Homo sapiens: one gene and its partner. The protein of the gene in region 1 purifies or fractionates together with the protein of each later gene. This does not show direct contact. Each region holds a gene or a part of one and is shown on either strand. Other genes may lie near its edges.

Region 1 (5,331 bases):
ACCTGTGACCTTTTACCAGAGTGAATATGTATTGAGGAAAGGGAAATAATTAGATTGTTCGGGGATAACTGGTTACTGAACTGATACTGATTCCAGGAAACCAAAAATATCACTCACTGTGGCCCACTAGTCAGAGAAGGGGCTTATGGAGGTCAGGTGATCAATGGAGTTTTAGCTTAGGTTTGACTCCTGGTGGCTCCCGTGGATCCCTGAACCCATCCTGGGGTTATTTCCTGGTTCCAGATTCAAAGTTGACATACTTAGCACCTGGCAGAATCCACACACTGGTTCCCTGCCTTGTGCGGTGAGGGCTGTTATGGTGGGAAAGGCCAAGTGGAAACCATTAGCGTTGCCTCTGCCTGGGAAAATAGTACATCAAAAGCAACATTGCATCCCTGGGGTGGGGCTGCCGAGATTAGCACCACCATCAAGGACTTGGAGGAGGCGGGGGTGGTGACCCCCACCACATCCCCATTCAACTCTCCGATTTGGCCTGTGCAGAAGACAGATGGACTTTAGAAACTGATAGTGGATTATTGTAAACTTAACCAAGTGGTGACTGCAAAATTCACACATCTCTGGTCCCTGCTACTGCATGCAGCTGTTGATCTGACGAATGCCCTTCTCTTTATACCTGTCCATAAGGCCCAGCAGAAGCAGTTTGCATCCAGCTGGTAAGGCCGGCAATGCCCCTTGGCGGTCTGGGCTGATGGGTATATCAGCTCTCCAGCCCTATGTCACAGTTTAGTTCACAGTCATCTTGATCACCTTTCCCTTCCACAGATATCATACTGGGGCTGGGCACGGTGGCTCACTCCTGTAATCCTAGCACTTCAGGAGGCCGAGGCAGGAGGATCGCTTGAACTTAGGAGTTTGAGACCAGCCTGGGCAACACAGTGAGACGTCATCTCTCTCTCTCTCTCTCTCTTTTTTTGAGATGGATTTTTTGCTCTTGTTGCCTAGGCTGGAGTGCAATGGTGCAATCTCGGCTCACTGCAACCTCCGCCTCCCGGGTTCAAGCAATTCTCCTGCTTCAGCCTCCTGAGTAGCTGGGATTACAGGCATGCGCCACCACACCCAGCTAATTTTTTGTATTTAGTAGAGACAGGGTTTCACTATGTTGGTCAGGCTGGTCTTGAACTCCTGACACCAAGTGATTCACCCGCCTTGGCCTCCCAAAGTTCTGGGATTACAGGCATGAGCCACTGCGCCCGGGCCGACATCATCTCTATAAATTTTTTTTTTTTTTAAATTAGCCAGGCATGATGGTGTGTGCCTGTGGTCCCAGCTACTTGGGTGGCTGAGGTGGGAGGATCGCTTGAGCCTAGGAGGTCAAGACTTGCAGTGAGCAGTGATTGTGTTACTTTACTCCAACCTGGGCAACAGAGTAAGACCCTGTCTCAAAAAAAAAAAAAAAAAAAGGGTCTCATGCTGGTCCATTACATTGATGTCATCATGCTTCATTGGACCTAGTGAGCAAGAAGTCGCAACCACTGTAGCCTTATTGGTAGGACATTTACATGTCAAGCGATGGGAAATAAATTCTACTGAAATTCGGGGACCTTCTCCCTTAGTGAAATTTCTCGGGGTCCAGTAGTGTCAGGCCTGTGAAGGTATCCCCTCTAAGGTGAAGAATAAGTTGTTACAGCTTTCCTCCTGCAACCAAGAAAGAGGCACAATGCCTCGTGGGCCTGTTTGGACTTTGGAGGCAACACATTCCTCATTTGGGTGTGTTACTCCAGCCCATTTGCTGAGTCACCCTAACGCTTCTAGTTTTGAGTGGGGCCCGTAGCAGAAGACTGCAACAGGTCCAGGTTGCTGTGCAACCTGCTTTGCCACTTGGGCCACCAGCAGATCCAGTGGTGGTTGAGGTCAGCGGCAGACAGGGAGGCTGCTTAAAGCCTTTGGCAGGCCCCTGTAGATGAATCGCAGTACAGGCCTTGGGATTTTGGAGCAAGGCCCTGCCATCATCCACAAATAACTTCATTCCTTTTGAGAGACAGCTCTTGGCCTAATACTGGACCCTAGTAGAGACTTAATGTTTGACCATCAGCCACGAAGTTGCCATGTGACCTGAGCTGCCCATCATGAAGTGGGTGTTATCTATGATCTGACCGACCAAACCAGACATTGGGCATGTGTGGCAGAACGCTGCCATCGAGAGGAAGTGGTATATATGGGATCAGGTCTGAGCAGGTCCTGAAGGCACAAGTAAGTGACATGAGGAAGTGGTCCAAAGGCCCATGGTTCTTACTTTGCCCACTGCCTTCTCTCTCCAGCCTGTATCTATGGTCTCCTGGGGAGTTCCCTCTGATCGATTGACAGTGGAAGAGAAGACTTAGTCAGCCTGGTTTGCAGATGGCTACAGATGGCTCTGCACTATATGAAGGCACAACCCGAAAGTGGACAGCTGCAGCACTATAGCCCCTTGCTGGGACACCTCTGAAGGATGGGGGTGAAGGGAAATCCTCCCTGGCAGAGCTTCGGGCAGTGCACCTGGTTGTGCACCTTGCTTCGAAGGAGAGATGGCCAGATGAGTGATTATATACTGATCCATGGGCTGTGCCTGATGATTTGGCTGGATGGTCAGGGATTTGGGGACTTGGAAAGAGTATGATTGGAAGATTGGTGACAAAGAAAGCTGGGGGCCTGGCATAGTGGCTCACACCTGTAATCCCAGCACTTTGGGAGGCCAAGGTGGGAGGATTGCTTGAGCCCAAGGAGTTCGAGACCAGCCTGAGCAACATAGTGAGACTCCCCGCCCCCGCCATCTCTACAAAAATAAAAAATTAGCTGGGCGTGGTAGCTCATGCCTGCAGTCCCAGCTACTTGGGAGGCTGAGGTGGGAGGATCACTTGAGCCTAGGAGGTTGAGGCTGCAGTGAGCTGTGATTGCTCCAGCCTGGGCAACAGAATGAGACCCTGTATCAAAAAACCCAACCAAACAAAAAAGCAATTGGGGGAAGATGTATGTGGATAGACCTGAGTGCGCACAGGACACGGATAGACCTCCCGAGTGCGCACAGGACATGAGGTATGTGGGTAGGATGACCTAGGTGGATTCTCGTCAGCCTCTTTCCCTGGCCACCCCTGTCATCGCCTGGTGGGCTCAGGAACAAAGTGGTCATGGTGGCAGAGATGGAGGTGATGCATGGGCTCAGCAGCATGGACTGCCACTCACCAAAGCCGACCTGGCTATGGCTACCACTGGCTGCTAGTCTGCCAGAAGCGGAGACTAACACTGAGCTCCAGTATGGCCCCATTCCCCGGGATGATCACTGCACCTGGTGGAAGGCACATTGGACCACTTCTGTTTTGGAAGGGGCAGCGTTTTGTCCTTACTGGAGCAGGCACTTATTCTGGATACAGATTCGTCTTCCCTGCACACAGTGCTTCTGCCAAAGTCACCATCCATTGATTGACAGAACACCTTTCCCACTGTCACGCTGTCCGTGTAGCACTGCTTCCAGGGAGCTCACTTCACAACCAAGGAAGTGTGGCACTGGGATCATGTGCAGGGAATTGGCCGGTGAGCACGAGCCCACTGGTTTCGCCTATCATGCTAAGTGGAACTACGGTCTTGTTATTGCCTTTATTTGGAAATTAAGTATGGTTTAAGAAGATGCCAGTGGGTGCCTATGGGTGCCAGTTGGTAAGGGGTGGACCTGTGATGATTGATTTTGGATGTCAACTTGACTAGATTAAGGAATACCCAGGTAGATGGTAAAGCATTGATTATTCTCTATGCTTCAGTACACACTGAGCCTGTCCCTTTTCTGCTGACAGGGAAGCCCAGTGGTTTGACATTGTGTAGAATGATCGGGCTGCCCCAGATGTGTCTGTGAGGGTGTTTTTGGAGGACACTGGCAATTGAGTCACTCAACTGGGTGGGGAGGATCTGCCCTCCATGTGGGCAGGCACCATCCAGTCAGCCGGGGGCCTGGAAGAAGGGTGAATCCTGGCTCTCTGTCCCGGAGCTGGGATGCTCTTCTCCTGCGCTTGGATGTCAGAACTCCAGGTTCTCTGGCCTTTGGACTCTGGGACTCGTACGAGTGGTCTCCGGAGTCTTTGACCTGGGACTGGGAATGACCACGTTCCCCACCATCCTGAAGCAGCTGACTTGAAAGAAGGGCAGTAGAGTCTTTTGAAGTTGCAATTACAATGCCAGCTAGGTGACAATACTTTGTAGGGCTGGGTCAGGGGTCTTCAAAAGGCTCTATGTACTCTGTATCAGCATCCAATATATGGTGCTGGTTTCTCCCGTAGCCAGGATTCACGGGTCCAGGAATCAAGGGGAGGAAATGGGAGTGGCACTGCGCATCATATCCCCTAGGGACCCGCTAGCGAAATTGTTGCTTCCTGTTCCTGTGACTTTATGCTCTGCTGGCCTGGAGGTCTTGGTTCCAGAGAGAGGAATGCTCCTACCAGGAGACACAACAGTGATTCCATTGAACGGGGGGTAAGGCTGCCACCTGGCTTCTTTGGGCTCCCTGTGCCTCTGGGTCAGCAGGCTGAGAGGGGAGTGATGGTGTTGGCTGTGGAGATTGATCTGGACTACCAAGGGGAAATTGATCTGGACTGCTCCACAATGAGGCAAGGAAGAGTGTGTCTGGAGTACAGGATACTCCTTAGGGCATCTGTTAGTATTACCATGCCCTGTGATTAAGTCAATGGGAAATTACAAGGATACAATCCAGGCAGGACTGTGAATGACTCAGACCCTTCAGGAATGAATGTTTGGGTCACTCTGCCACTTAAAGAACCACAGCCAGCTGAGGTGCTTGTTGCAGACGAAAGGAACACAGAACAGGACAGAGGGAGGTAGTTATAATAAATACCAGCTCCAACCACGTGACCAGTTACAGAAACAAGGGCCAGAATTGCTGGGAGTATTTCCTCCCTATTTTGTTCAGAATACGGTTGTATGCATTTACATGTATATTAGGCAAATATCTGTTTTCTTTCCTCTCTTACTCCTTATTCTTAGAACATGTGTTGAGTCTATAGCAGTATTTAAGTATTAATTTTACATCATAGTATTTAAGTTATTGAGTATCAGAGGAGAGAGGAGTGAATAGCACTCAAGGACTGTACCTCCTCTCTGGAGAAGGGATTAATGTGTCTTTGCTATGCAGGATAGTAGTGTCACGATAGGTGGAACTATGACCTTGATACTGTCCTTGGAGATTAAGTATGGTTTAAGGAGATGCCAGTGGGTGCCTCTGGGTGCCAGTTGATAAGGGGCGAACCTGTGATGATTGATTTCAGATGTCAACTTGACTAGACTAAGGAATACCTGGATAGATGGTAAAGCATTGATGATTCTCAATGC
Region 2 (4,736 bases), on another chromosome or scaffold:
TGGGTGGTTTTATTAAGACAGCTATTTTCTTTAAATACAATTCATCTCATAAAGATTAACCATGACTTTTTCAGAGTATAATAATATTAGGACAACAGAAAAGCTTTCACGTTTTAGAAATAGAAATTTCTGAAGACATAGATACACAATTTCTTGTCAAATGAAAATTTCACCACTTACGGTGGAAGTATTTCTGAAGCCATGAATATTTTCTCCACAAGCTCTGAAAGTATGTTCAATAGGTGTGTTAAATTAGTGTTCACATCTTCATTTTTTTCTAACTTTGATGGACTTAACTAAAAGAAGGAATAAATCAATATAAATGCATGTTGGCAATGACAAATGCAAATGAATAGAGGAAAACAAGTAGTTATAGTTTTCGAGGTTGTCTATTTTTCGGTATCTCTGTGTGTATTGATCTTTTTTCTTTGTATAATGGGAGTTTTTAAGTAGTTTTCTCTATGGAACTCCTCCTGGTAGGTCTGTTACCATTTATTCCCAATTAGCCAACTGAAAAGCAAACAGTGCTTAGTCAATTCTATTTATTTGAGGGGAAAAAAAGCTGATTAAAAGCTTTTCTGAATGAGGCTTATTTAATGGCTAATAAAAATATCAAATGCCTTAGGCAGAATCACAAACCTTTCTCAGAACTTTTCCTGTAACCCTTCTGATCTAGTGTCAGCAGAGTACATTTATCTATGGAAGTCGGAATTCCGTAGCCTATCTCTAAAGTCCAGAGACTCCCTACCTACCTGCTGCACTTCTGTGTCATCCTTATGTTAGGCCAACTATGGCATTACCCCACATTTCCAACATTAAATCACTAATTTCTTCCCTTCAAGTTATTAGTATGAATCGACACCTTCGTGCAGGATTAACATTTGCTAGGTCCCAGTGTCCATTGTCAAAAACAATTCCTTAAACTGATTTTTATATCAGATCTAATATATATTATTTCTTTGTAGTTGCTTTACCATTAAAATGAGAGAATATGTGTGTGAGATTCCACTTACTGTCTTAATAGTGTATTATGAATTTATACTGAAACTTTAATAATCCTAAAAAGATTTTTTTGTTTTAGTTGAGGTTATCTCATAATTCTCCCCTCGCAAAAAAACCTTCAAGAACAAACCAAGATGTAATGAAGTGCTACATAGGTTATATAATGAGTCACTAACAAAACCTTCAATTTATCTTATGCACGCTTTCTGTAAGTAGTATATAGATTATTAGTACAGTAGAGGAAATGACAAAGTATTTTCATGAATTTCTGGTGCAACTTGATGGTTTTTAATCCCAAAATAAAGTACATCTTTTTTAAGAAGTCCATTTTGCAGAACATTTTTATAAATGTATTACAGACAGGTGTAACTGCTATGAGGAATAATTTTAGAAATTTAATATATTTTCCTTAAAATGTAATTGGCTACAAATTATTACCTATTAAAATATGTTCTTTGCAAAAATACTTATTAAAACATTAAATTCTTACCTCACAAGACTGCTTGCTTTCCATTATCTTTAAAATAGAGTCTTTCAAAGCATGATGAACAAACTGTGTAGCAGTGGCTTTCATATACTGCTCCATCAAGGTGCTTGCAAGTGTTGTGGCTCGAAATAGGGTAGTGGCTTCATCTACACAAATATTTACATTAGAAGATTATTTGTAAAGGACTGACCTAATGTGACCAAATTGGAAATTAAGTGAATTCATTTTACCTCAACAGGAATAGCCACTTAAATGTGCTTTTTGCGTGCAGCGTTGAAAGTACTAATTACAATGACATCCTATACTTCTACAGACTTAACTCTGTAAGACTTTCATATGTATTACCTCATTAGATCATGAACAGAAGGGATTAACACTGCCATGTTCATATGGAAAAATGAAGACTCAGAATTGTTATATGACTTAAGATCAATTAGACAGCTAATGATAAAATTAGGACCATAAATCAGCTTTGCTGCCCATTGACCCCATGCTTTGAAATTTTAGGGTTTATTTACAATTAAGGATATAACACAAAATCCCAGTATAGATTAATTTATTAGCTTAAAATATGTCTACTGAGTTTCAGTAAAATTTTAATGAAATACAAATGCTGTCAGAAAAGATAAACTCAAGTGTAAAATAAGGACCACCATTTTATCTATTCCTTGACAAATCTATATTTTGTGATGAGGAGGAAAATAGTTCTAAACTTTACTATTTATTTGGGGAACCTAGAAGCAAGAACTGTTAATGAATCAAAGTGCTTGGTGGTGTGTGTGGGCCAGGGGGAGGGTGGATTATTTTGTAAGCCATTAAAAGCACTGTGTCCAGCAGCTTGGGAACTACCTATCTATAAAAGTTAGAAATAAAATGCAGCTGACACCCAGCTTCTGTGTAATGAAGAAGTAAAAATTAAACAAGACCTGTAACCCCGGCACTTTGGGAGGCTTGAGGCAGGCGGATCACCTGAAGTCAGGAGTTCAAGACCAGCCTGGCCAACATGGTGAAAACCCGTCTCTACTAAAAAAATAAAATAAAAAATTAGCTGGGTGTGGTGGCATATGCCTGTAGTCCCAGCTACTTAGGAGGCTGAGGCAGGAGAATCGCTTGAACCTGAGAGGTAGAGGTTGCAGTGAGCCGAGACTGCGCCACTGCACTGCAGCCTGGGCGACTGAGATGCCATCTCAAAAGAAAATAAAAAACAAGAGAATACAGATAAATATGCCAAACAGTCAAGCCATTGATGTAGACACAGATACCACCTTCTTGTGGCTTCTAGTACTTATCTGCCAAAACCTACATTAGAAATATCAGCTTCCCATAGTAACCAACATAATCAGAACTGACATCCAACTGCAATTTTTAAGGAGGGAAAACAGAATAACTTATTTTGCAATATAATTTAACAATTTAGTATATTCAGAGATAGAGTCCATATATCCTTGATATAAAATCTAAACCCAGTTTCTTGTATCACACTAACATGGCCATACCATACCTTCCATGCTTATTTCTCTGTCATTTAGTGTGCATAACAACAACGATTCAAGCTTTTCGTGAAGAAAAATCCTCAGTAGGATGCTGGCCAGTAGTGTTCGGTCTTGTCCACATACATGTGATAAAGCATAGACTACATGAAGTTCCTTTTGCAGTATAAGCTAAAATGACATTTTAAAAGATTGTTTAAAGTACGTAGCATTATAAGCATGCTCCATGAGACTAACAAGAAATATGTTCTTTCACAAGTTCTTATATTTAAAATGATGTCCCATTGAATAAATTTATTTAAAATAGAATGAATTCGTAGTCTACTTATTTCTACCAAAATTACAGTATAAAACAAGGTTTAAAATCTCTGGCATCATTGTGCTACTAAGCTATGAATTACTATGTTTACCTTAATGGATCTTTTATTAAATGTTAAATGTTTCTGTTAATTCCAACAAAAACAAGACTGATAAATAATTTAATACCTCTTTAAATTCACTGTACTCTTCTTCTGGCATGATTTTTTCCATAGAGTATCGTGCTCGAACACGCAGGGACCCTGGTTCAATACCTTTTAATGGTATATGGGAGCTGAGCAGAAACCATTCATCTGTGGCATGCCCTTTCTGTAATCGGCTCAACTGGCAGCGCATAAATACTTGGGAAGAAAAACAAGCAATTATTGTTTAAAAAGAGAACACGATAATTAGTCATGCAAGTAAATTTTCCTGGTGTTCAGTCTTCCCTATGGTGTTAAATGCTTTTCATTAAAGGAGTTTTCAGTAACATCACAAATTCAATATTTAGTTGTTTATTTACTGAGTGTCTACGGTGCACTAAACTCTGATAGGTAGAGAGTACAGAGATGATTGAGATGTGTTCTTTGAGTTGCATAGAGGTCAGTTTAGTCAAGAAGGCAAGAAATCAATTATGTTTCAGCACTGGTAAGTGCTGTTAACAGTGGTGAATGCTATTCGAGTACAGAGAAATAATATCTAATTCAGCCTGTGGAGGTGAAAACTCCACTTTAAACAGGTAACCCTTGAGCGGACGAGATCTAGAGGTGTAGCTAAGAAGAAAAGTAGTGAAAAAAGAAAAAAGAGCACTTCAAATATAAGGTATGGCCTTCGTTCTGTGTCATTACTATGGGGTTTGGATTTTATCGTAAAAGTAATGGAAAACTAAAATTACTACAAAAAACTACAGAATAAACATTTTATAGAGAAATATTCAGGCTTTGATCTGTTAATACATATCACTTCCTTCCCTAAGCCTGAGTTTTAAGAAGGTATTAACCTAATTCACCCTGATGTGAACTGGTAAATCTCACTGTCAACTGTTTTAGCAGCAGGATGGAAGGAGCTGTGCTGCTGAGGACAGGAACTGGGAGCCTTTGACTACCAGAAGTGAATAAGTGACATATTCAAGTTTAAGGGAAATTTTTAAATAGAATAAATGACATTCAAGTTTAAGGGAAATTTTTAAATAGAATACTTTTTTACTTATATGGTAATGTAATCCCAGCATTTTGGGAGGCCGAGGCCGGCAGATCACCTGAGGTCAGGAGTTTGAAACCAGCCTGGCCAACATGCTGAAACCCCGTCTCTACTAAAAATACAAAACTTAGCCAGGTATGGTGGCGGGCGCCTGTAGTCCCAGATACTCAGGAGGCTGAGGCAGGAGAATTGCTTGAACCTGGGAGGCGGAGGTTGCAGTGAGCCGAGATCACACCACTGCACTGCAGCCTGAGCAACAA

The links. Proteins that work in one complex are often made in the same cells at the same time.
Region 2: the proteins of SPSB1 (region 1) and RASA1 purify together in Homo sapiens (affinity purification with western blotting, with the first as the bait; one study listed by BioGRID). This does not show direct contact.

The regions. Positions count from the first base shown.
Region 1 is NC_000001.11:9,298,562-9,303,892, forward strand, and holds part of SPSB1 (SPRY domain-containing SOCS box protein 1), read left to right. Parts: intron 1-5,331. UniProt on the Homo sapiens protein: Substrate recognition component of a SCF-like ECS (Elongin BC-CUL2/5-SOCS-box protein) E3 ubiquitin-protein ligase complex which mediates the ubiquitination and subsequent proteasomal degradation of target proteins.
Region 2 is NC_000005.10:87,375,295-87,380,030, reverse strand, and holds part of RASA1 (ras GTPase-activating protein 1), read right to left. Parts: intron 3,639-4,736; coding exon 3,466-3,638; intron 3,151-3,465; coding exon 2,991-3,150; intron 1,636-2,990; coding exon 1,493-1,635; intron 297-1,492; coding exon 181-296; intron 1-180. UniProt on the Homo sapiens protein: Inhibitory regulator of the Ras-cyclic AMP pathway. Stimulates the GTPase of normal but not oncogenic Ras p21; this stimulation may be further increased in the presence of NCK1.